6 linked regions of the Homo sapiens genome follow. The protein of the gene in region 1 interacts with the protein of each later gene in a pairwise test. Each region holds a gene or a part of one and is shown on either strand. Other genes may lie near its edges.

Evidence for each region.
Region 2: the proteins of BMP2K (region 1) and ST6GAL1 interact in a two-hybrid assay, tested with the Homo sapiens proteins (one large-scale study listed by IntAct).
Region 3: the proteins of BMP2K (region 1) and NAA15 interact in a two-hybrid assay, tested with the Homo sapiens proteins (one large-scale study listed by IntAct).
Region 4: the proteins of BMP2K (region 1) and SIGLEC7 interact in a two-hybrid assay, tested with the Homo sapiens proteins (one large-scale study listed by IntAct).
Region 5: the proteins of BMP2K (region 1) and STXBP6 interact in a two-hybrid assay, tested with the Homo sapiens proteins (one large-scale study listed by IntAct).
Region 6: the proteins of BMP2K (region 1) and BMP3 interact in a two-hybrid assay, tested with the Homo sapiens proteins (one large-scale study listed by IntAct).

Annotation. Positions count from the first base shown.
Region 1 is NC_000004.12:78,870,350-78,873,849, forward strand, and holds part of BMP2K (BMP-2-inducible protein kinase), read left to right. Parts: intron 1-433; coding exon 434-711; intron 712-1,500; coding exon 1,501-1,599; intron 1,600-2,264; coding exon 2,265-2,449; intron 2,450-3,500. UniProt on the Homo sapiens protein: May be involved in osteoblast differentiation.
Region 2 is NC_000003.12:187,066,526-187,070,025, forward strand, and holds part of ST6GAL1 (beta-galactoside alpha-2,6-sialyltransferase 1), read left to right. Parts: intron 1-3,500. UniProt on the Homo sapiens protein: Transfers sialic acid from CMP-sialic acid to galactose-containing acceptor substrates. In B lymphocytes, generates neuraminidase-sensitive lymphocyte cell-surface differentiation antigens, such as CDw75, HB-6 and CD76.
Region 3 is NC_000004.12:139,385,005-139,388,504, forward strand, and holds part of NAA15 (N-alpha-acetyltransferase 15, NatA auxiliary subunit), read left to right. Parts: intron 1-1,128; coding exon 1,129-1,226; intron 1,227-2,879; coding exon 2,880-3,080; 3' UTR 3,081-3,500. UniProt on the Homo sapiens protein: Auxillary subunit of N-terminal acetyltransferase complexes which display alpha (N-terminal) acetyltransferase (NAT) activity. The NAT activity may be important for vascular, hematopoietic and neuronal growth and development.
Region 4 is NC_000019.10:51,141,068-51,145,100, reverse strand, and holds the start of SIGLEC7 (sialic acid-binding Ig-like lectin 7 isoform 1 precursor), read right to left. Parts: upstream 2,801-4,033; 5' UTR 2,732-2,800; coding exon 2,299-2,731; intron 696-2,298; coding exon 417-695; intron 190-416; coding exon 142-189; intron 1-141. UniProt on the Homo sapiens protein: Putative adhesion molecule that mediates sialic-acid dependent binding to cells. Preferentially binds to alpha-2,3- and alpha-2,6-linked sialic acid.
Region 5 is NC_000014.9:25,043,648-25,047,147, reverse strand, and holds part of STXBP6 (syntaxin-binding protein 6), read left to right. Parts: intron 1-2,207; exon of another isoform or gene 2,208-2,228; intron 2,229-3,500. UniProt on the Homo sapiens protein: Forms non-fusogenic complexes with SNAP25 and STX1A and may thereby modulate the formation of functional SNARE complexes and exocytosis.
Region 6 is NC_000004.12:81,054,708-81,058,127, forward strand, and holds the end of BMP3 (bone morphogenetic protein 3 preproprotein), read left to right. Parts: 3' UTR 1-2,920; downstream 2,921-3,420. UniProt on the Homo sapiens protein: Growth factor of the TGF-beta superfamily that plays an essential role in developmental process by inducing and patterning early skeletal formation and by negatively regulating bone density.

The sequences.
Region 1 (3,500 bases):
GAAGTGCTAGATGAAGGAATAAGGAAGAGAGGTTTGAGCTAAACTTTAAAGAATAAGAATTTCACTAGGTGGAAAGTGGCATTCTAGACAGAGAATTATATTGGTACTAATACATACTCATGATAGTACATGATATTGTTGAGCAGTGTAGAACAAACTAACATGGATGTTGTGTTCATGGAGAGCCGAAGTATGAAACATGAAGTGTTTCTAAGATGTTGACTTGTTCAGAGTTGTAGACGACAAAATTAAGCTTCTTCGGTACTTACAATTAAAGTAAATCCCTATAAACTCTATGCATATGGAAGTTTTTGTGTTATAAATAAGGATATAAATGCCTTAGTTAAATTATTATTGAAATGAGCATGTTGAAATCCAGCTTTTTAATTGAAATCATTAGTATGTTAATGTAAGTGTTTGGACCTGTCTTTAGGGGCACTAAGACCTGGAAATGGCCCTGAAATTTTATTGGGTCAGGGACCTCCTCAGCAGCCGCCACAGCAGCATAGAGTACTCCAGCAACTACAGCAGGGAGATTGGAGATTACAGCAACTCCATTTACAGCATCGTCATCCTCACCAGCAGCAGCAGCAGCAGCAGCAGCAACAGCAACAGCAGCAGCAGCAACAGCAACAGCAGCAGCAGCAGCAGCAGCAGCAGCACCACCACCACCACCACCACCACCTACTTCAAGATGCTTATATGCAGCAGGTAATTTTTTTGTTTCTTTAGATATGGAAGTAGTGTGAAATTGATGCAGCAAATTGAATATCAGTGAATTCCTTTTTGTATCATGGGCACCTTGAACTCTAGATTTGAGTAAACACTTTCCCCAATTTTCTAATTATGAAAGAATACGTATTTAATTTGCAATCAGTGAAATACTTAAGAATACTGTAAAATAGGTTGCATTGTGGCCTTATGAAGAAAAGAATGTTCATCTGAAACATTTAGTATTCACAAATAAGCACTGCAGTTTATAATGAATATTATCTGAGGTTACGTTTTGAGTTCACAGACTAATAATGCTATTGTTGGAAAGGTGATATTAGGCTTTTCAGAAGTAACATTGTCTTAGATTTTTGTCACCCTCCTGGTTTTGGTTGATAGATCCAGAGTGGAGGGTAGTAAGTAGGTGGTACCATGGGATGCCCAGAAGACACCACTGAAGGGGAGATTTAGTGTAATGGGGCTTGGTTAGAAGTCACTCAGGTGTCTTTATCTTCTAGGAAAAGGTAGTAAATGTGTTTTGGTAGCTTTCTTCTAAACATCCTTAAATTGTGCTAAAAATGGTTTTAATTGAATCTAATTGTTGATAATTTTGAAACCAGTTCTGATAAGCATATTTATTAATAAATTATAGTAATTTAGAGTATAGCTATTTTGTATTGATGTTTGGACTACTGATTTCTCAAATCATTATGGTAAGATCAATACTTTAAAAAAGGGCTCTGACACAAAAAAGGCATAACATTTATTAATTTGATTTTCTCGTTGTAGTATCAACATGCAACACAGCAGCAACAGATGCTTCAACAACAATTTTTAATGCATTCGGTATATCAACCACAACCTTCTGCATCACAGTATCCTACAATGGTAACTTAAATAATTTCTAGAGATTTCTCTGAGTATACATTATGGTGTTGGAATTCACAGTATGAATCATATTATTCAGAATTTAGTAATTCAAAATCAAGTAAGTTAATTGACATGTATTTTATCAAAGCCAGTCATATATTCTCAAGCAGCTTTAAATTGCACTGAACTATGGCACCTGAATATGGCACATAGTAATTGACCGATAACGTACTTCTCTTATGTCATTATATAAGGGAAATGATGTCTTACCTATAGTCTTTCGTCACATGTCTCTTTCATTCAGCACATATCTATTGAGTAAAAAAATGAAACCCAAAGGGAGAGTATATTTTCTTCAGAGAATAATTTGACCTTTTTTTTTTTTTTTTTTTTTTTTTTAACAGCAACCACTATATTAGTGACTTTAAGCTACTCTTTTTCTTAAAATACTTAAAAGAGGATTTTTGATTCTGGCCAAGTGAGCCTACCTTTACAACTTTTTAAAAAGATTTATTTCATCTTGCTGTAGTTTTCTAGTAATAGAGCTGCTTCTGTAGATGATTGTTTTTTACGTTTCTGATTTTGTCACCAATGTGAAAGGAAGGAACATAGTAAATAGATGCAGTGCTGACAGTGCTTTAGGACTGGAGCATTGTTTTGTATAATATCATTTCTTTTTTCAGATGCCGCAGTATCAGCAGGCTTTCTTTCAACAGCAGATGCTAGCTCAACATCAGCCGTCTCAACAACAGGCATCACCTGAATATCTTACCTCCCCTCAAGAGTTCTCACCAGCCTTAGTTTCCTACACTTCATCACTTCCAGCTCAGGTTGGAACCATAATGGACTCCTCCTATAGTGCCAATAGGCAAGTATTTTTCCAGTGAAAGCAAAGGAAATTATTGTGGAAGTGGAAGTCATCGTTGAATGGTCGGTCATTAAGTTCTCTTAAATTAGTTTAGAATTTATCTTTCTGTAGAGCCACCCATTCTCTCTTCCTAGTCCTGTCTTCTGGTCCCTTGGCATCCCCATCCTTCCGTTTCCTCAGTTAATTCTGCTAACTGCTATTTGTAGGTAAGGTGTAGCAACATCTAACAGCATTTAGGGCTAAGGATATTATTGGCTTGTATGTAAAGGCATTTTTGGTAATGTAAGTATAAACAACACCCTAACAAGTGACTTCAGCAGTTAAAAAAAAATCCTTGTAGACTTTCTCTATTTACATGTTATTACCTTTGATTAATTTTACTGTTTACTCATAAAGGTTGTATAATTTAATTTAAATAGGTATAAACATTTTTACATATATGTATTTTAAGATGATATATAGTATACATACTGTTACCGTAACATAGTTGGTAATAGTATATTTTGGCTATTGAGACATATTGGTTAGTAGCGTTATAAATTAAATAACTTTGGTACAAAATTTCTTAAACTTATACAAAATGGCACGTGCTTTAGCATCTTGTAACTAAGAATCATCATCAATGCCTCCTAATGTTTTTAGATACCTAGGAGGTAGGAGCTGTTAGACTTCTGTTACATGAACACTGAAGTTCTCATACAATGCTGTTTAAGGATTTGAAACATTAGCTGAGAAAAGGTGTCTATAAGCTTTGGCTCAGAGTTGAGCAGGAGAAACAGCAGCATCAGTAGCATACTTGTACACTGCATCTCAAAAGAGAGCTAAAGTATGCAGTTTGCTATAGAATGCCTCCCAACCTCTGTGTGTGTGTGTGTGTGTGTGTGTGTGTGTGTGTGTGTGTGTGTGTATGCATGCATGCATGTGTGTGCACATGTGCAAGAGACAGATGGTGGGGCGGGTATGGTAGAGAGGGAGACAGAAACGAATGGATTTCTTGAACTACTTTTCTAAAGTAAGAATTGGGGTGGATGAATTAGGACAATTTTGTCTA
Region 2 (3,500 bases), on another chromosome or scaffold:
CAGAGGGAAAACAGATTTGAGAAGAAAAAAGTCCAAAATATGCACAGTGGTAATATCTGAAGATGTGCGTGCGTGCGTGTGTGTGTGTGTGTGTGTGTGTGTGTGTTTCTATTCTTGCATTTTCTAACTGTCCCCAGTGAGTATTTGTTACTTTCTAACTGAGAAGGTTACTTTAAACAGTGTCTTGAGCAGCAGCACTCCATGCCCTGGTGTAGCCTTTTCCTGGCAGATGTTCCCCAGGGCTCTGCTGCTCTGCCAATGACTTATTCTCAGCATGAACTCCTCCCCTGCCCCCTAAGAGGATCTCCAAACCCAGGTCACACTCCCCCTGCAGGTAAGTACAGGCGTTTGAGAACAGCTTTATTCTTCCAGGAACAGCTGGTCCCCTCAGCAGGGCCTTACAAGGTGGTTATGTCTAAATAAGGCACCTGAGGCCAGGAGATGTGACATGGTCCATCTAATACCATGGAGTGAGTTAGACACAGAGCAGGACTGGAACCCATGCTTCCAATTCCCCATCCAGTTTTAAGGCAATCTTCTTTTCTTTCTTTCTTTCTTTTTTTTTTTTTTTTTTTTTTTTTTGGAGACAGAGTCTCTGTCACCCAGGCTGGAGTGCAGTGGTGCGATCTTGGCTCACTGCAACCTCTGCCTCCGGGGTTCAAGCGATTCTCCTGCCTCAGCCTTCTGAGTAGCTGAGATTTCAGGTGCCCGCCACCACGCCTGGCTAATTTTTGTATTTTTAGTAGAGACGAGGTTTTACTATGTTGGCCAGGGTGATCTCGAACTCCTGACCTCAAGTGATCTGCCCACCTCAGCTTCCCAAAGTGCTGGGATTACAGGTGTGAGCCACTGCACCTGGCAAGGCAACCTTTTTTTTTTTTTTTTTTTTTGGTAGAAAATCTTTGAACTTCATATAGATGGTGTTAATGTGGGTGAGTTCAGAGCCATGTGTAAAGTTCCAGGAGGGGAGTGCTTGCTGGCTTCTCCCTTATCCCTCAACCAGATCCCAGCCCCAGCCACTTTCTGTTTCTCTTCTCTGGATAAAACTATCATTCATCTTCACCTGTTTCTATTTTCATGGATTACTGTCTCATTCATCTCAAGTAGCTCAAGTGAATGGCTGTTTTTCCATTGGATACAGGAAGACTGAGGGTGACCTGACCCTCATGGTGTGCTTGCTTATTTGAATGTCTGATGGTTTTATGGGTGTAGTCCTGCTGGAGCAGAAAGAATATCTGTTAGGAGCCTGCCTCTGGGCTCTGGTTCTAACTGTGCCACAAACTCATCGTAGCCTTAGACAATTCTCTTGTCTCTCTGGGCCTCAGTTTACCCATCTGGAAAATGATGGGTCTGAATTTAATACCTTGAGTATCATCCAGCTGTGACATACTACAACTCAGGCAAGAAGCAAATTCTCCTGACACTCCATACTCCTATCCAGTGTTCTCTGACGTCCTTCCCCAAGAGCTGTGGTACCCTACCCTGCCCACATTATGTGAGGCATTATAGCACATAGGTTAGAAGTGTGGTCTCTGGGCCGGGTGTGGTGGCTCATGCCTGTAATCCCAACACTTTGGGAGGCCGAGGCAGGTGGATCACGAGGTCAGGAGATCAAGACCATCCTGGCTAACACAGTGAAACCCCATCTCTACTAAAAATACAAAAAATTAGCTGGGTGTGGTGGCACATGTCTGTCGTACCAGCTACTTGGGAGGCTGAGGCAGGAGAATCACTTGAACCTGGGTGGCGGAGGTTGCAGTGAGCCAAGATCGTGCCACTGCACTCCAGCCTGGGCAACAGAGCGAGACTCCATCTCAAAAAAAAAAAAAAAAAAGAAGTGTGGTCTCTGGAGCTAGACCTAAGAATCCAATTCAGACTCTCTTACTTACTGACTGTGTAATTTGGACAAGTTACTTAGCATTTAGCATCTCTATTTCTTTAATCATAAAATGAACATATTAACACTTACTTCCTAGGGCTGTTGTGAAGATAAACTGAGTTGAGGTATGACAGTACCTAGCATGTAGTAAGCATCATTAAATGGTGTCTGTTGTTTTCACATATTGTAAAGAAGAAAGCTTCGTGCATCTCTTGGAATTTCTGAGGACGGTGAAGCCACAGCTGGGAAAGTCTCAGGGAGCCAGGAGTTGCTGGCCTCCTGCTTTGCATACTCAAAATTGCTGGAAAGGGGCTATAGCAGGGGGAGACATTTTTTAAAAATCCCAGTTATTGCTATTCCTCATGAGTATGTATATATCACCTGGCATCAGTACTCTGCATAGAAAGAAGCATAGCTAAAGAAAAGACACTTTGCTTTTAATATAACAGCTGTTTTCAGGGGAATAGGGTGGATGAGGATAGGGAGTACTGGCCCTCTGTCCTCAGGCCTCCCTGTCACCAGCTCAGTCACGTCTATCTTACAAATCCCCATCTAGCAGGAAGCCTGCTCTGCCCTTGGACTATAGACCTGAAGGGCTGTTGTTAAGTTACAACGTTCCCAGTGGAAGGAGGACAGTACTTAAAAGTTACAAGATGTGGGTTCTGTTCTTAGTTCTTATGGCCTGTCAGCCAGGGAACTCCTGGCCAGTAGTCTCATCCTTGAACTTCTTCTTTTTTTTTTTTTTTCTCAAGACGGAGTCTCGCTCTGTCGCCAGGCTAGAGTGCAGTGGCACGATCTTGGCTCACTGCAACCTCTGCCTCCTGAGTTCAAGCTATTCGCCTGCCTCAGCCTTCCAAGTAGCTGGGATTACAGGTGCTTGCCACCACGCCTGGCTAATTTTTGTATTTTTGGTAGAGACAGGGTTTCGCCATGTTGGCCAGGCTGGTCTTGAACTCCTGACCTCAAGTGAGCCCAGCCCTCATCCTTGAACTTCAAATTTCCACCCCACCTTACTCCCACAGGCATATACCAGTTGTTCCTTTTTCTCTGTTCTTATGCAGGAAATGGCCTGAGGTCCAGGAGTCCCCTTGGTCCCCTTTTTCCCTCACTCTCAACATTCAATTAGTCTTCACATCTACAGCCGACAATTGTAACTTCTTTTCTTTACTCCATTATTTCTTAGGTGACAACAGGAGCTTCTTTGTGGTCTTCTTTTTTCTAAAAACACTAATTCAGAACTCTAGCATGTTTAGATCTTCCTTACTTAAAACCCTTTCCTGGTCCCCATAACCTACTGAAGAAATCCTAAGCTCCCTGGCTTGGCCTCTGTCTACATTTCTCTGATCTCTTCCAGCTCTTTCTCTGTATCCTAGCCATACTGAACTACTTGCAATTCCCAAACAGGGTACACACTGTACTAGTTGTTCCTGCAAGAGACAGGAACACACATCCCCCCACACTAGCTTAACAAAACAAAAAATGCATTTCTCTCTCATGCAAAAGAAGTCCAAAAGTAGACATTCCAAACTTAATATGGTGTTCCAGTGTCAGAATCCAAGTTCTTTCTACTTTGTGGGTTTGCCGTTCTCAGCATATGACTTCCACTTTATGGTCCAAAATG
Region 3 (3,500 bases), about 61 Mb from region 1:
TTCTAAAACAACTTCAGTAATTTTAATGAATCAACAATAATATAAGGTACATGTTTTTAGAATGGAAGAGGCAGTGTGTATATGTTACATTGTGATCGTATGAAAACAGGCAGCTTAAATAAGCTTCCTAAGCTGGGCACAGTGGCACATACCGGTAGTCCCAGCTACTCAGGATGCTGAGGCAGAAGGATCACTTGAGCCCAGGAATTTGAGGCCAGTCTGGGCAACATAATGATACCCTGTTTCAAATCAAAACAAAACCAAACATATATATATATAATATATATATATATATAATATATATTATATATATATGCGCTTCCTATACATTTTTTAATTTCTTACGGCAAAATAATCACTACAAATCAAAGTCAGTGGTCTCTTCTGGTTCAGCATTGGCATTACAAAGAAGCAGGTGTAACTAAACTTAAATGTATATCATAAAATGAAGGTAGAGCTTTCTTTTATTTCTTTTTTCATCATTGGGCTCTTAAAATTCACTCAGATAGGACCATCGTCTTCCATTTCTCATTCTTATGTAGGTATCAGAGTTGACAGTGCTAAACACCTGAAATTATCTTCACAGTTTGTGAGAAATCTAAGTCAAGGGTCTGTGCCAATGAGCCAAAATCTGACCTTTATGGGACCATGTGGGTAGTACTTTTCAAATACTTGGCTTAAGCCCAGCAGCTTTGTATACCTTTGTGGAATCCTGAATTCAGCATTTTGGCTCACACTGTTGAGATAGGATAGTCCCCCAACCTCCACATTATTCTGCTTATTTCAGAAAGAAGACTATCATGGTCCTACCACAAAAATACAAGTATTATTAGAATGCTTGTGTTTCTTCATAGTCTCCTTTACTGTGCATGTGTTGCATATACATTCTATTTTATTGGGTAGATATATGTGGTATACCTCTATTGTTCTCTTTCTTTGGATGGTTAAGCTAATCCCCTTAGCATTATTATTTTTTGAATAACAGTATCTCAAGTAGCTGTTCCCATTCTTCTAATAAAGTGCCACACCCTCTGCATATATATCTTGTTTGCCTTTTATATTTAAATAAGTAGAGGATAAGATGTTGGTTTTACCTTGAAATAAATTTCCTATTTCCCTCTCATTTAGCTGCCAAAATGGTATATTACTTAGATCCTTCTAGTCAGAAGCGAGCTATAGAGTTGGCAACAACACTTGATGAATCTCTCACTAACAGAAACCTCCAGGTAAAGAGTTTTTCATAATCTCTCTGTAAGAATACTTAACTACTTTTTTCACCAAGAGAAATAATTGGGTATTTATACACACTGTTTTTTAAATCATTATGAATCTGGGTCAGAAACAACTTATCTTAAAATTTATTTAGGCTGCTTGGCATTCAGTAACTAGTTTCACATCTGTAGCTTGGAATAACTTTTTAAGAAATATGTTTTAATAAAATCATATACATTCCATCGTCATTTTTGGATTTCATTTCATATCTCTGCATTTCTGAGCAAGCAGTGGTCTCAGTGGAGATTCTAACATGTTTAAAATGTATTTTGGCTAGGCGTTTTGGTTCATGGCCTATATTCCCAGCACTTTGGCAGGCCAAAGTGGGCAGATCACTGCAGCTCATGAGTTCGAGACAAGCCAGGGCAACATAGTGAGACCCCATCTCTTAAAAAAAAAAATCAGTCAGATGTGGTGGCACTGTATTCCCAGCTACTTGGGGGACTGAGATATGAGGAACACTTGAGCCTGAAAGGTTGGAGCTGCAGTGGGCTGTGATTGTGACGCTGTACTCCAGTATGGACAACAGGGCAAGACCCTATCTCAAAATAAAGAAAGATGTATTTACTAGGGGCTAAATAAAAATACTTATTTTGTAACTTGTAATACAATATGAGATTAAGTTAAATAAAAATTAATATGGGTGTATTGTAAAATACTGTAGTTTAAACTAGAAACAAAGGGATAGCTACCTCATGTTATAATTTGCCAGATAAACATGTATATGCTGAAAGACAGTTATTAATAAATATATTCATTTAATAGCAAATGAAGGCAGTATCTTTAAGAAAGAAAAATTAGACTTGTTTGTTTTACCATTTAGATTAGAACCTGGATTTAAAGTTCTAATCTAGGTCCTTTGTAACCTGGATTTAAGTTGCTTTGTAACCTGGCAAAGTTTGTAGGGATTTTTGCATGTGGAAACTAAGTAGCTTTTCTAAGTGAAAATATTAAGAAAGCAAACATGAGAAATGCAAATCAACATGAATCAACAAAAAAGATAAGAAGCAGACTTACTTAGGGGTTTGGTTGAAAGAATTACTCATTTTCATGAACTAATTTTTCTTGCAAATAATCACTTCATGTTTGAGACACTCTTTTCTGCTTAGTTATTGGATGTGCCTTAAGTTGCTCTTTAATTTGAACACAATGTTGAATACAGTGTTTGAGTTTGCTGGCTGGCTCTAAGCTTTCAAAAATATTAGAAGGCATATGTGCAGTAATTGGTATTGGCATTGTAAATCTAGATGTTTATACCCAGGGCCAGGCTAGGCTGAGGTAACATTGCTGCCTAAGGTCATACGCTTGCTGAGAGTGAGTGGCTTTTTAAATGTAGCACTCCATATACCTTGCTTGCCTCACCATAGTCCCATTCCTGTTTCTGCAGTCATCCCTGTTTAGCCTTTTGTATAAATCCTGCAATTCTGGAGAAATGGTTAAATTAGGCCTTGAAGAACATTCTAATAGAATGCATATGCAGGAGTAAATAGCTAAATATGTGTATTTATTTCTTATTTTAGAAATCTCTTGCTGTTGAAATGTCTAATAAATTCCCAGTAAGAACCTTTTTTTGACCAGTTACAACATGACTTTTTTTCTTTCCTTAGACATGTATGGAGGTATTGGAAGCCTTGTATGATGGTAGCCTAGGAGACTGTAAAGAAGCTGCTGAAATTTATAGAGCAAATTGTCATAAGCTTTTCCCTTATGCTTTGGCTTTCATGCCTCCTGGATATGAAGAGGATATGAAGATCACAGTTAATGGAGATAGTTCTGCAGAAGCTGAAGAACTGGCCAATGAAATTTGAACATCACTAAACAAGCAAATGGAATGACTTTGGACCATATCTAGTATATAATATTTTTGTCACGCACCTGCTGCATTGCTCTAACTTACACAGAATGAGAGGAGTAAATGTTCTTGCCTTCAAATAGTGTTTTACGTTTTTTATCCTGCTGAAAAAGTATATATAAAATATCTAACATTACAGGATAGAGGTTCAGTTTCTTAAAAAATTAAAGCTGCTAAAATTGAGTGGTTAAAAAAGATACCTTATCCTATTCCTCCCCACCCACCCATGTTTTTAAACTAATTTATATAAAATCTGGAGGCTGTTACAGCTAACAAAGCAGGTGTGTGGCAGAAATATTACTTTAAATTTGTCTTGTGAGATTTTACTATATCTCAGACAGCATAAATGCTGTTTTAGCACTGGATTCTTTCACTG
Region 4 (4,033 bases), on another chromosome or scaffold:
GCTAAGGATGGGGAGGAGGCCTGGGTTCAACTACAAGGGAGTCTCATATCACCAGGGTGAGTCCAGGATGAGGAGGGACCTGGCCCTGCCCTGAGCTGAAGGCCCTGCTCCCCCAGCCCCAGGGAGGGGGCTCCATCCTACCTGTGCCTTCTCCTTGGAAGACAGTCACAGTCAAGTTCTGAGGAGGGTCTGGGACAGAAAGACATGGAGACCTGCATCACTGTGAGGGCTGGGGACACTGGCCCTGTCTCCCCAGGAGCTGCATAAATGGGGAAGGCGGAGCCAGCGTCCTCCTGATCCCACAACCAGCCCAGATTCTGGGACCCAGCACCCAGTGTCGAGCCCTGACCCCATCCTCTGCCCTCAGGGACGTCCCCCCCTCATCAGGGACCAGGGCGTCCTGGCTCAGCACTCACAGGACACATTGAGTTGGATGGTCCTGTTCGTGGTCACGCCGGCCCCAGGCAAGGTCACCTGACAGGTGAGGCTGGTGCCGTGGTGCTGGGGCTGTGGGATGAGGGTGAGCACTGAGGAGCGGGTGGTGGAGGGGTGCAGGGGGGACACAGAGGTCCCCATCCAGGAGATCATAGGGGGCGTCCCCTGCTCACAGGCCCAGGGCACAGAGCAGGTCAGATTCTGGAAGCAGCCAGACTCCAGGGTACCGGGGATAAGGATGTTGGGCCTGTGGGTCAAGGCTGGTGAAGAGAGGGGGACTCAGGATCAGGACAGAGGATCCATGGTACAGCCCTGGGGGAAGCTCAGGCTCTGGTTCAGCTTCTGCCCTGAGCCCAACTCGCTTCACCCTCAGCCCTCTCCCAGGGCAGGGGCCCCATCCCAGGCTTTCGCTGCCACCCCCATGACCTTTCCCTGTGGTGTCTCCTGGAGCCTGTGCCTTATCTGTCACATTCACAGAGAGCTGCTTCGTTTTGTAATTCCATCTTATCTGTCCTCTCTCCACCTGGAAGTAGTAGTTCCTCAAATCCCCCTTCCTGGCATCTCTGATGCTCAGGGAGCAGTTGTTGGTCTTCAGGTCCCCAAGGAGGTGGAATCGGCCCCGTGTCTCCTGCACTTTTCCATTTGGGATGTTTGTGGCCACTGGATTATTCCATTGTATATTGATCCCTTTCTTAAACCAGCATCCATGGACAGGGCTAGAGTCAGTTCAGTTGTAATAGGGTTAAAGGACACTGCAGGGCACAGAGACGCACTAGCCCTCCTGCACCATCACCAACTCCAGCACCTCCAGCCTGTATCTTGACAGTGGGGCCTGGGACGCTGTGGGGAAATGAGGCTCAGCCCAGCCCCGACTGTCCCTCTCTTCATTTGCCCACAAGAGAGGCAGCAGCATCTCTGAGACAGAGGGTTCCTGGGCTCCTTGTGTGAGCAGAGAAGTGGGAGGGAGAGGAGGGGCAGGGCTGTGGGACCCACAGGGGGCTGGAGAGGGGCTGGAGAGGAGCTGGAGACCTCAACCCAGCACGAAAGAGAAACTACAAACCCACATGCTATAGGAACTGGTTCCCTCTGCACAGAGTGAAGGAAACCCTGAAGCTCAGAGACCCTAGAGACCCACCCAGGGAGGAGAAGAGACCGTGTCCCACCTCCTACCTCCGGGCTTCCCTGGAGCACCAGGGCCTGCACCAGACACGTAGGTCCTGCCCTCCCGGCCTCTGGACCATCGTGGAGGTCCCTCCTGTCTTTTGAGCATCTAAATGTGGATCTCCGAGGACCTCAGGGCATGAGAGATGGAGGGGCCGTGTGCTGAGTCTCCCTGTCCAGGCTCAGGTGCCTCTGCTGCCCTTGGTTTGCGCCAGGAAGTGCTTCCTCCCTGGCCTGGCCTGAGAGAGTCACGGGGTTGTGTAGACCTAAGGCTCTCAACTGGGGAGGACTTAACCCCCCAGGACGTTTAACAATGTGTGGAGATAATTGTTATTGTCTCACTGCATGGGTGGAGTGGGTGCTTCTGGCATCTGGTGGGGAGAGGCCTGGGATGGTGCTAAACCCCGGCCATGCCTAGGACAGGCCCCAAAACAAGGAGTCATAAGGCCCCACATGCCACAATGCCAGCGTCAGAGGCAGGATGAGGATGTCAGGCCTGTGGGTCAGGGCTGGTGAGGGGAGGGGCCTGCAGGATCAGGAGGGGCATCCAAGGTGCGGTCCTGGGGAAGCTCAGGCTCTGGTCCAGCTCCTCTCCTGAGTCCATCACCCCCGGCCCCCTCCCAGGACATGTGTCCCGTCTCAGCCGTGCCCTAAAGCCCTCATCACATTTGCCTTTGGCCTCTCTTGGAGCCCGTGCCTTACCTGTCACGTTCACAGAGAGCTGGTCATATTTATAATTCCATTTTATATTTCCTTTCTCCATACGAAAGAAGTATCTCCCCGCATCACTCATTCTGGCATCTCTGATGCTCAGGGTGCAATTTTTGGTCTGTGGGTCCCCAAGGAGGTGGAATCGGTCCCGAGTTTCCTCCTGCACTGCCCAAGCTGGGTTGTTTGTGGCCACTGGAGCCTTCCAGCTTATATCATTCCCTGCCCGGAACCAGTAGCCATGAACTGGGTCAGAGTCAGTCTGGCTGTCCACTGGGTAGGAGAAGGAGCAGCGCACATGGACACACATGCCCTCTTGCACGGTCACGGAACTCTGCATCGTCAGCGAGTAATCCTTCCGGTTACTCTTCTGTCCTTCCACCCTCTCCCTCCCCCAGAGCAGGGGCAGCAGCAGCAGCAGCAGCATATCTGGGGTTGGAGGTGCCAGGGCCGCGAGGGAACGTCTGTTCCTCAGGGTTCTTCTCTCAGGAACTGCGGGCTCAAGACTTAGAAGAGGCCCTACAGGAAGTCGGTGGTGAGGTCAAAACAGTGACCTCCTTAGAAGAAGAACTTCACACACAGACACTGTCAGGGCTGGGTCAGCCCTGGGAGATCCACCGTCCACCACCCGACATTCACTCCTGGGTCCCTGAGGCCAGAGCGGGAGACAGACTCACCCAGATTCCCACCCCATGCAGGGCCCACCCCACCTCCTGCCTCCCTCTCAATGCCTTTCCCTTTAGGTGATATTTTCTGCAGGGTGAAAATAACTCCCATCTGCCCAGACCCCTGAGTCACAGGCTGTGGATGTCTGCGTAGCTCAGAAGTGGGACTCGGGGCCATGAGAGACAGGGGTGCAGGTGGGGTGAACAGGCAGCCTCTCATCCCTCCCTCAGCAGCCACGAGGTGGGCACCCCCTTTCTGCACAATGAGGTCAACACAGCAGAGCCGGACACTGTCCCCAAGGAGTCACTGTGTGGTGGGGAGACACTGAGTCTCCTGACGTTTGAGCTCCCCATGACAGGAGCTTCAGTGGGGGGCACAGGCAGGGTGGGGTCACTCTCCCCTAGGTCGGGGGTTCAGTCTCAGGAGGACCGAGCAGACGGACATGGGGCTGTGAAGGTGAGGATTGCGCCTGTTGATACACGCCAAGGACACGGAGGGGAGCCCAGCCTGCAGGAGGCCGGGGAAGCTGAGGCTGTGATTGTTGTATTGTGGGGCTTGGTAGACAGGAAAGTCATAAGGGAAAGGATCAATATGAAAAGAGCAGACACTATTCCCATCCTCACAGCTCTCTGAGCACAAGGACATTTCCCTTCACCACTGCTATCTCATGAGGCCTGGTTAGTGCAGAGTGTGAGGGGTCTGCTGGCCCTGGGGCTTTGCTCCTGCAGGAACTGCTCCTAGGGGTTCAGGTGAACAGGAGACGTGGAGCAAAGACACCAGCCCCGGGGCGTCCACCCTCAGTGATGGGCGCGATTTTCTGAGAGAAGAAACACGCACCTGACTTCAACAGAAGATTATTTTAAACTGTGTGACTGGGCTGGGAGGAAGTGGGAAAAATCCTGCAAGCTGCAGCCCCCTTAGATCCAGGCCAGCTTTTCTTGAAACAGTTTTTTTTGAGCGGGGAGAAACACAAGACATGTACATAAAAGTGTCCCCTAAAAACCAACTCAGTGATTCACACAAAATAAGCACCCTTGAAGAACTAGAACACAAAAGAACTGTC
Region 5 (3,500 bases), on another chromosome or scaffold:
AGGAGGTTACGTACAGTTCTGACAGCTTGAACCTTAAGGTTGGAGGACAGAATAGATCACCTAGGGAACAAGTTTAAGAAGAATTTGCAGTGGTGTCTTTTCCGAATGGACAGCTTACCCAGGCCCTGGAAGGAGCATGAAGTACACCCCACGACAAATGTCCCATGGTGGTTAGACCTGGCAAAGCCCTTTCATTCCTTCTGGAGAATGGTAGTGGCATTGGCAGTGGCTGAGACCCTCTCTTCGTCTCTAAGAGGGTAGAAGGCTGGCTTTCAGGGGCAGCTGATCAGTATTAGTGTGGTGTCCTGTGTAACCTAGCTTGTAATGAAGCACTATTGGGACCTAACCCAATCTTAAGCTCTTTTCCTTTTCCCCCACGCCATAGTCCTGTGCTGTGAGCTCACCATGACTTCCTATGACCTAGACTGTGGCCTTGAATTTTGACTGCTTTGCATCAGAGAGGCTGTGGGAGCCTGCTTGAGTCAGGAGGGTTCCTGCAATAACATCCTAAGGAAGAAATAAAGTTTACATAATGTAGTGCCCAAATCAATTAGGTATAAGAGGAGGTCAGTCAGTGCCTTAACTAGTTCTTGTGTTGCTAGGCCAAATGGGATCCCAGCTCACTGTCATGCTTTATCTCAGCTGTCCATTTGTGCTTTGTTTTAGTTTTAAAATGATTAGCACTAGAGAAACCTATCAGTAAATCAGAAACCTTTAAAAAACTCAAGTGTACACTTAGTGTTTTAGTAGATAAAACTTTCAGGCCCAAACCTGTCTTCCTGACAGCAGTCAGCACTTGGTGAAGGAACAGCCTTCTGGTTGTCACTCTTAAGATTCATTAGTTAATTTCAATGGTTTTTCCCACTTAGTATAAGTAGGGAACATTTCTATTTTAAAATTTCTTCCCATAACCTGATGTTTATATTTTGGGTGTTACCCCTGCTTTGAGGGCAGCCTCTTATCACTGTTGTTCACTTTTCTCAGTACATGGTATCTTTGCTCCCTTTAATAAATCTGTTGTGAGACGGTCATTATGACACTTTATTTCTTTTTGGTCATTAGGACTGTTATTACTGAGTCACAGAGAGTCAGGGCCCATTCCTAGAGCATTATTCTCTATGTTCCTAGAGGGTGCTTTTAAACTAAAACACTAGTTATACTGCACTAGCTCATTTCTAAGATACATTCTTTTTCTGATTTCAGAAGCCCAGATGGATCTTAAAAATTATGAACACATTTAGGCCAGGTGCAGTGGCTCACACCTGTAATCCCAGCGCTTTGGGAGGCTGAGGCGGGTGGATCACCTGAGGTCAGGAGTTCAAGAGCAGCCTGACCAACATGATGAAAACCTGTCTCTACTAAAAATACAAAAACAAATTAGCTGGATGTGGTGGTGGGCACCTGTAATACCAGCTACTCGGGAGGCTGAGGCAAGAGAATTGCTTGAATCTGGGAGACGAAGGTTGCAGTGAGCCGAGATCGTGCCATTGCACTCCAGCCTGGGCAACAAGAGTGAATCTCCATCTCAAAAAAAAAAAAAAAGAAAAGAAAAAAAAAGTATGAACGCATTTAATGTGCAGTTTTTTTTTCTTCTGTAACCTAGTATGTTAGTGTAGTGACTATCAATTGATGACATCCTCAAACAAAGCAAGGTTAGTTCCTTATTCTGGTAGAAAATATGGTTTCTACTCAATGCTGTCCAGCTGATTGAATTGCTGAGCAGTTAGCTCAGCAGTTCCGAGAATATGTTGGGTAAAGTGCTGTTGGGGTGGGTATTAATCAGTTTGCTCTTATAAAGGGCAAATCCATTTGGGAAGCACTGCCTATTATTTTTTTTTCCTCTTGTAGAGATTCTCAACATGGGCATCATTATATCAAAGACTATGAGAAGTACTATAGTTAACTATATCAACGACAAAAACTTGGTTACATTTATTCAAGTCAGCGTTTCCCAGAATACAGAATTTTCTGAGGTTATATATGTATCTTTTAGGACTCCATTACTGAGTTAGCACAAACCACAATTTTAATATGTGATTTAATATTGTGGGTGGGATGGTTTCACCTAGTATATCCCGAAAATATAGGGACATTCATTAAGTATGGCTATTAATTAATTAACTCTATAAGTGGTTACTTATTTTTTATTTCAGAGTAGAGAAGAACATTTTAAGCTGTAGTGGCTAAGAAAGTCTCCACGAAGGAGCTGGACTGTGATAATATAAATGGTGGGTAGCACTCTTTGATAGATAAGGGACATTTTAGGTTGGAGGGATAATGAAGCAGGAGTAAAGACTTGCATTTGTGCCTGCATATAAATAATTTTCAGAGCATACAACAAAATGGATTGTGCCCAGCACAGTGCGAGATTTACTGAATCTGTGGTGGTGGTCAAAGAACCTATTAAGCCCAGGCTTGGTTGCTCATGCCTGTAATGCCAGCAGGTCAAGGCTGCAGTGAGCCCTGATCGTGCCACTGCACTCCAGCCTGGGCAACAGAGTAATATCCTGTCCCAAAAACAAAACAAAAAGTTTTTTGATTCTGTAAATTCGTTGAAATAGCAGATGAGTTATAGAGAGGACTGGACAGCTGGTTGCAGGAGTGGAGGCGCAACACTCAGGATGAAAGCAGTCAGGGGTGCCTGGAACTGGACGGGGGCATGGAAGTGTTCCTGTGCCATTAGTCATTAGGGGGATGCAAATCAAAACCACAGTGAGATGCCACTTCACACCCACCAGGACGGCCAGGTGGAGAATGTGGAGAAATTGGAAGCTTCCTACATTAGATTGCTGGTGAATATGTAAAACCGAACAGCCACTTGGGAAAACAGTTTGGCAGTTCCTCAAAATGTTAAATATTGGCTTCCTAATGACCAATTCCCCTCCAAGATAGATACACAAGAGAACTGAAAACATGTTCATGAAAATATGAATATTCATAGCAGCCGTATTCCTTTTTTTTTTTTTTTTTTTTTTTTGAGGCAGAGTCTCATTCTGTCTCCCAGGCTGAAGTGCAGTGGCACAATTTCTCCTCACTGCAGCCTCGACCTCCCAGGCTCAAGCAATCCTCCCACCTTGGGTTCCCGAGTAGCTGGGACTACAGGCATGTGCCACCACCTCCAGTTAATTTTTTTTATTTTTGGTAGAGATAGAGTTTTACCATGTTGCCCAGGCTGATCTTGAACTCCTGGGCTCAAGCAATCCACCTGCCTTGACCTCTGGGATTACAGGCATGAGCCACTGCGCCTGGCCAGCAGCCTTATTCTTAATAGCCCTAAAGTGGAAACAACCCAAATATCCATCGGCTGCTGAATGGATAAACAAAATGTGGTACATCCATGCAAGGAAAACTATTCAAACATAGAAAGGAACAAAATGTTGATTCATGCTACAACATTGATGTACCTTGAAAACATGCTATGTGAAAGAAGCCAGATACAAATGACCATGTATTTACATGATTCCATTATGAAGTGTACGCAATAGGAAAATCCACAGTGA
Region 6 (3,420 bases), 2.2 Mb from region 1:
TAGACACTTGTTTGTCTTTGCTTTCCATTTCTATGTGTCACATACATATATGTGTCCTCTTATAACTTTAGTCTTCAAAATTATTTCAATATCCTTCTTCTCACTATATTTATTTGTGTGATGGAAATGCTTTCAGGCCGTAGATCATTGTTGGTGTTAATCTGTGGTTAATCCTCATTTTAGTTCCGTCTTATCTGATACTTAGAAATATCTCAGCCATTTTGGAGGCTGTGCAGTATCAGAAGACGTGGAGTTTGTTCTGTCTCTGCCTGTAGCTAATTATGGTGGTTCAGTCATTTAATAAATATGTTTTGAGCATCTATTTTGTGAAAGGCACTGTGTTACCTGTGTGTCTTTAGTGTCCTCACTGGTAAAATGAAGAGGCTGGCCATGAGCTGGAAGGGTTAAGTTTATAATTCCAGCTATTTCACACCCGTCTTCCTTGAAGGAATGATAGTGATAGATATAAAAACACTGTAAGTCCCTCTTTTAATAAACTAAATGAAAGAACATCCTATACTTCGCTGTTTGTAAATTAGTATGGCATTCGCTTTGGTTTAAGTGGTATTTTATTGCAAACCCATTAAAAGAATAACTCATGAAAAGAAGCTCTTTGACACCTTGGGGTACACAAATGTTGGTGTGGGTGTGTGTTAATTCTGTGAGTGAGACACACCAGTTCTAAAAAAAATGAGTGAAGTTCTGGTGCCTGAGTTACCATGCTTTCTTCTAGTTCTTACAGTAGCATAAAATTAAAGATTCAAAGTGAGATGGAGGATAAAATTACTTTTTAATACATGTTCTCAAACATTTGAAAATAAAAGTATATGATAGAAGGGGGCCAGAGTGTGGCCACCATCCTGATCGTACTGTTTTTCAATAAAGAAAACTTTTTCATTGGTAGATTTGGTGAAATTCTAAATTTAGGTTTTTTTCTAGAGCTGTATCAACCAAAACTTCTGGCAATTCCCAGTATCACTTCTTAGCCTTCTTATATCCAAATGCCTGTTTATTACCTTTCTTAATTTGAATCAATGCCTAGTTATTACAGATTGCACCCCACAATGGCCAAAAACCCACTACATAATAAAATTTACAGGTACTAACTAGTTAAGATTATATTTTAAGTAGCAATTGATATAAAATTACAACACAATGAAAGAACTTGGGTAATCTCTTAGCAATGGAAATAGGTTTTAACCAGCAGTTTTTCTGGGTGCTTTGTAACTATCATTTTACTAATGAATTGAGGATGTATTATGGTTTAAATTGGAAGAGTTTTATTCCCAAAGAATAAAGCAAGATTATCTTTCAGTAGTAGAGATTGAAGTAAATGTATTAATATTTTAATTAATACAGATTTACTAAGAGTAGTTAGAAAATTTAGTAAGTGCCTGTTTTACAAATTGTTAGGTACTAGTTTCTGTATAATTCCTACACAGAAGCTTTAGAAATCTCCTGATATTAAATTATTAAATTGGCATTCATGAAAAGAGAAGCTACAATTATAAACTCCATTTGCTAAATCATGCATAATACTCTCTCTCTCTCTTCCCCCACAAGTAATCTCTCTACCCCATGCAGTGTGCACACACACACACACACAGTCAGTTACTGAAAAAAATAATTCTTTTTCTTTTTTTTTTTAAATGGAGTTTCACTCTTGTCGCCCAGGCTGGAGTGCAGTGGCGTGATCTCGGCCCACTGCAACCTCCACCTCCCAGGTTCAAGCAGTTCTCCTGCCTCAGCCTCCTGAGTAGCTGGGATTACAGGTGTCCGCCACCATGCCTGGCTAATTTTTTTATTTGATAAAAAGAATTCTTTTTCTCAATAACTGTTCTCTTGAATTCAAATTAAGGGACTGCCAAAGTCAATTAGAATATTTTAAAAATACTTTGTTGTAACCTGTGTAAATAATATACAATTTACAGGATTTGGGATTGTAGAACTTAAACTGGAAGACTGGATTCCTCAGATCTCAGGACTATAACATTCCAGATAAATTTTTACATTCCCTTTGCTGTATATTAACTGATGATCATTTATATGTTAAGATTTTTTACCTTAATATTTCTGAATAAAACTCTTATTGCCCATTTAATATTTTCATAGGCAATCAAATGTGAGTAATACTGCTAAGAGTCTGATTTATTAAAAATATTTGTATAATTCATTCAGTTTAGTTTTTCAGTTTAGTCTTTCTGCTTTCACTTTTCTCTGTGCTAACAAGTAACTAATGTCTGGGCATTGACTTCTTATTGAATCAAAGTTGGGTTAGGCATAGCTATGCACACCTGATGTGTAAGATTAAAGAAGAGATTAAATAAGAAATCTTGGGTAAGTTGGACTTTTCTGTATAGCTCTTTTTTCCTCTGAGTTGTATTTTAATGTAGTTTATAAGTGATAAAATGATCCTTGTTTTCTAAAAGCCAGTCCTTCCCTTCAGCTTTCCACAGTTTCTGTAAATGTTTAATACTTGTACAGTCAATGGCAATTTTAAATATATATATATATATAATATATGTATATGGAAAAGGTTCAAAGATGCTTTTAATTTATTTAATGACTATTGCCTTCCTATAATAATAATTTTCATCCTTAATTATGATAATACTTTTAGCAAGAAAAATTCCTTTTTACTACAGTTTTTAGATGCAAAATGCAGTTTGGTTCTTTAGTCAAATCCACTTAGAGGGTATATTGCAGTGAAACTGTGAAGGATACTTCACTACCAATGTATAAGCTTTGTTGAATTTGTATCATTTTCTTTCAGTAATGAAAAGCTATTCATTATACAGTATGGAAATAAAAATTGCTTCATTGACCATTCATTTTTACTTATTGGGAAATACTATATTTCCAGACATTTTCAAGTGTGCTGCATTTAAAAGAGGTAATAAAGCTTAAGCATAGAGTTGAACATTTTCAAATGGTATTCTAAATGGAGCATCGTAACTTACTCTTAACATAACATGATTATCGTTGTAAAACAAGATTGAAATATACCCATCAGGAAAAATATATCTTTCAAGCTTGAGAAACTCAACTTAAATTGTTTCATATTTTCTTTTCTTTTTTAACCAAAAACTCCACATTTTATAGTTGGAGACTTTTGTTTCTTTCTGGATGTCTGACTCACTATTTTGACAATAACTTTATTTCATCTATCATTCTTACCATGTCCTGTTCTTTTAGAATGATAACTATCTAAATTTAATTAATCTTATCATTGAGATATATTCTAGCCATTTTTTGTTTAGGCCATAGTTTTTTCTTTAAGGAAAAAAAATGACCTGAAATTAAGAAATAAAATATGCTTTTATATTATTTTTATTATTTTAATCCATCTTTGTAACACTGTGTATGTTTGCATTTTGGAACTACAAGGAAATTTTAAAGATCATCTTGAACAAGTTCCTT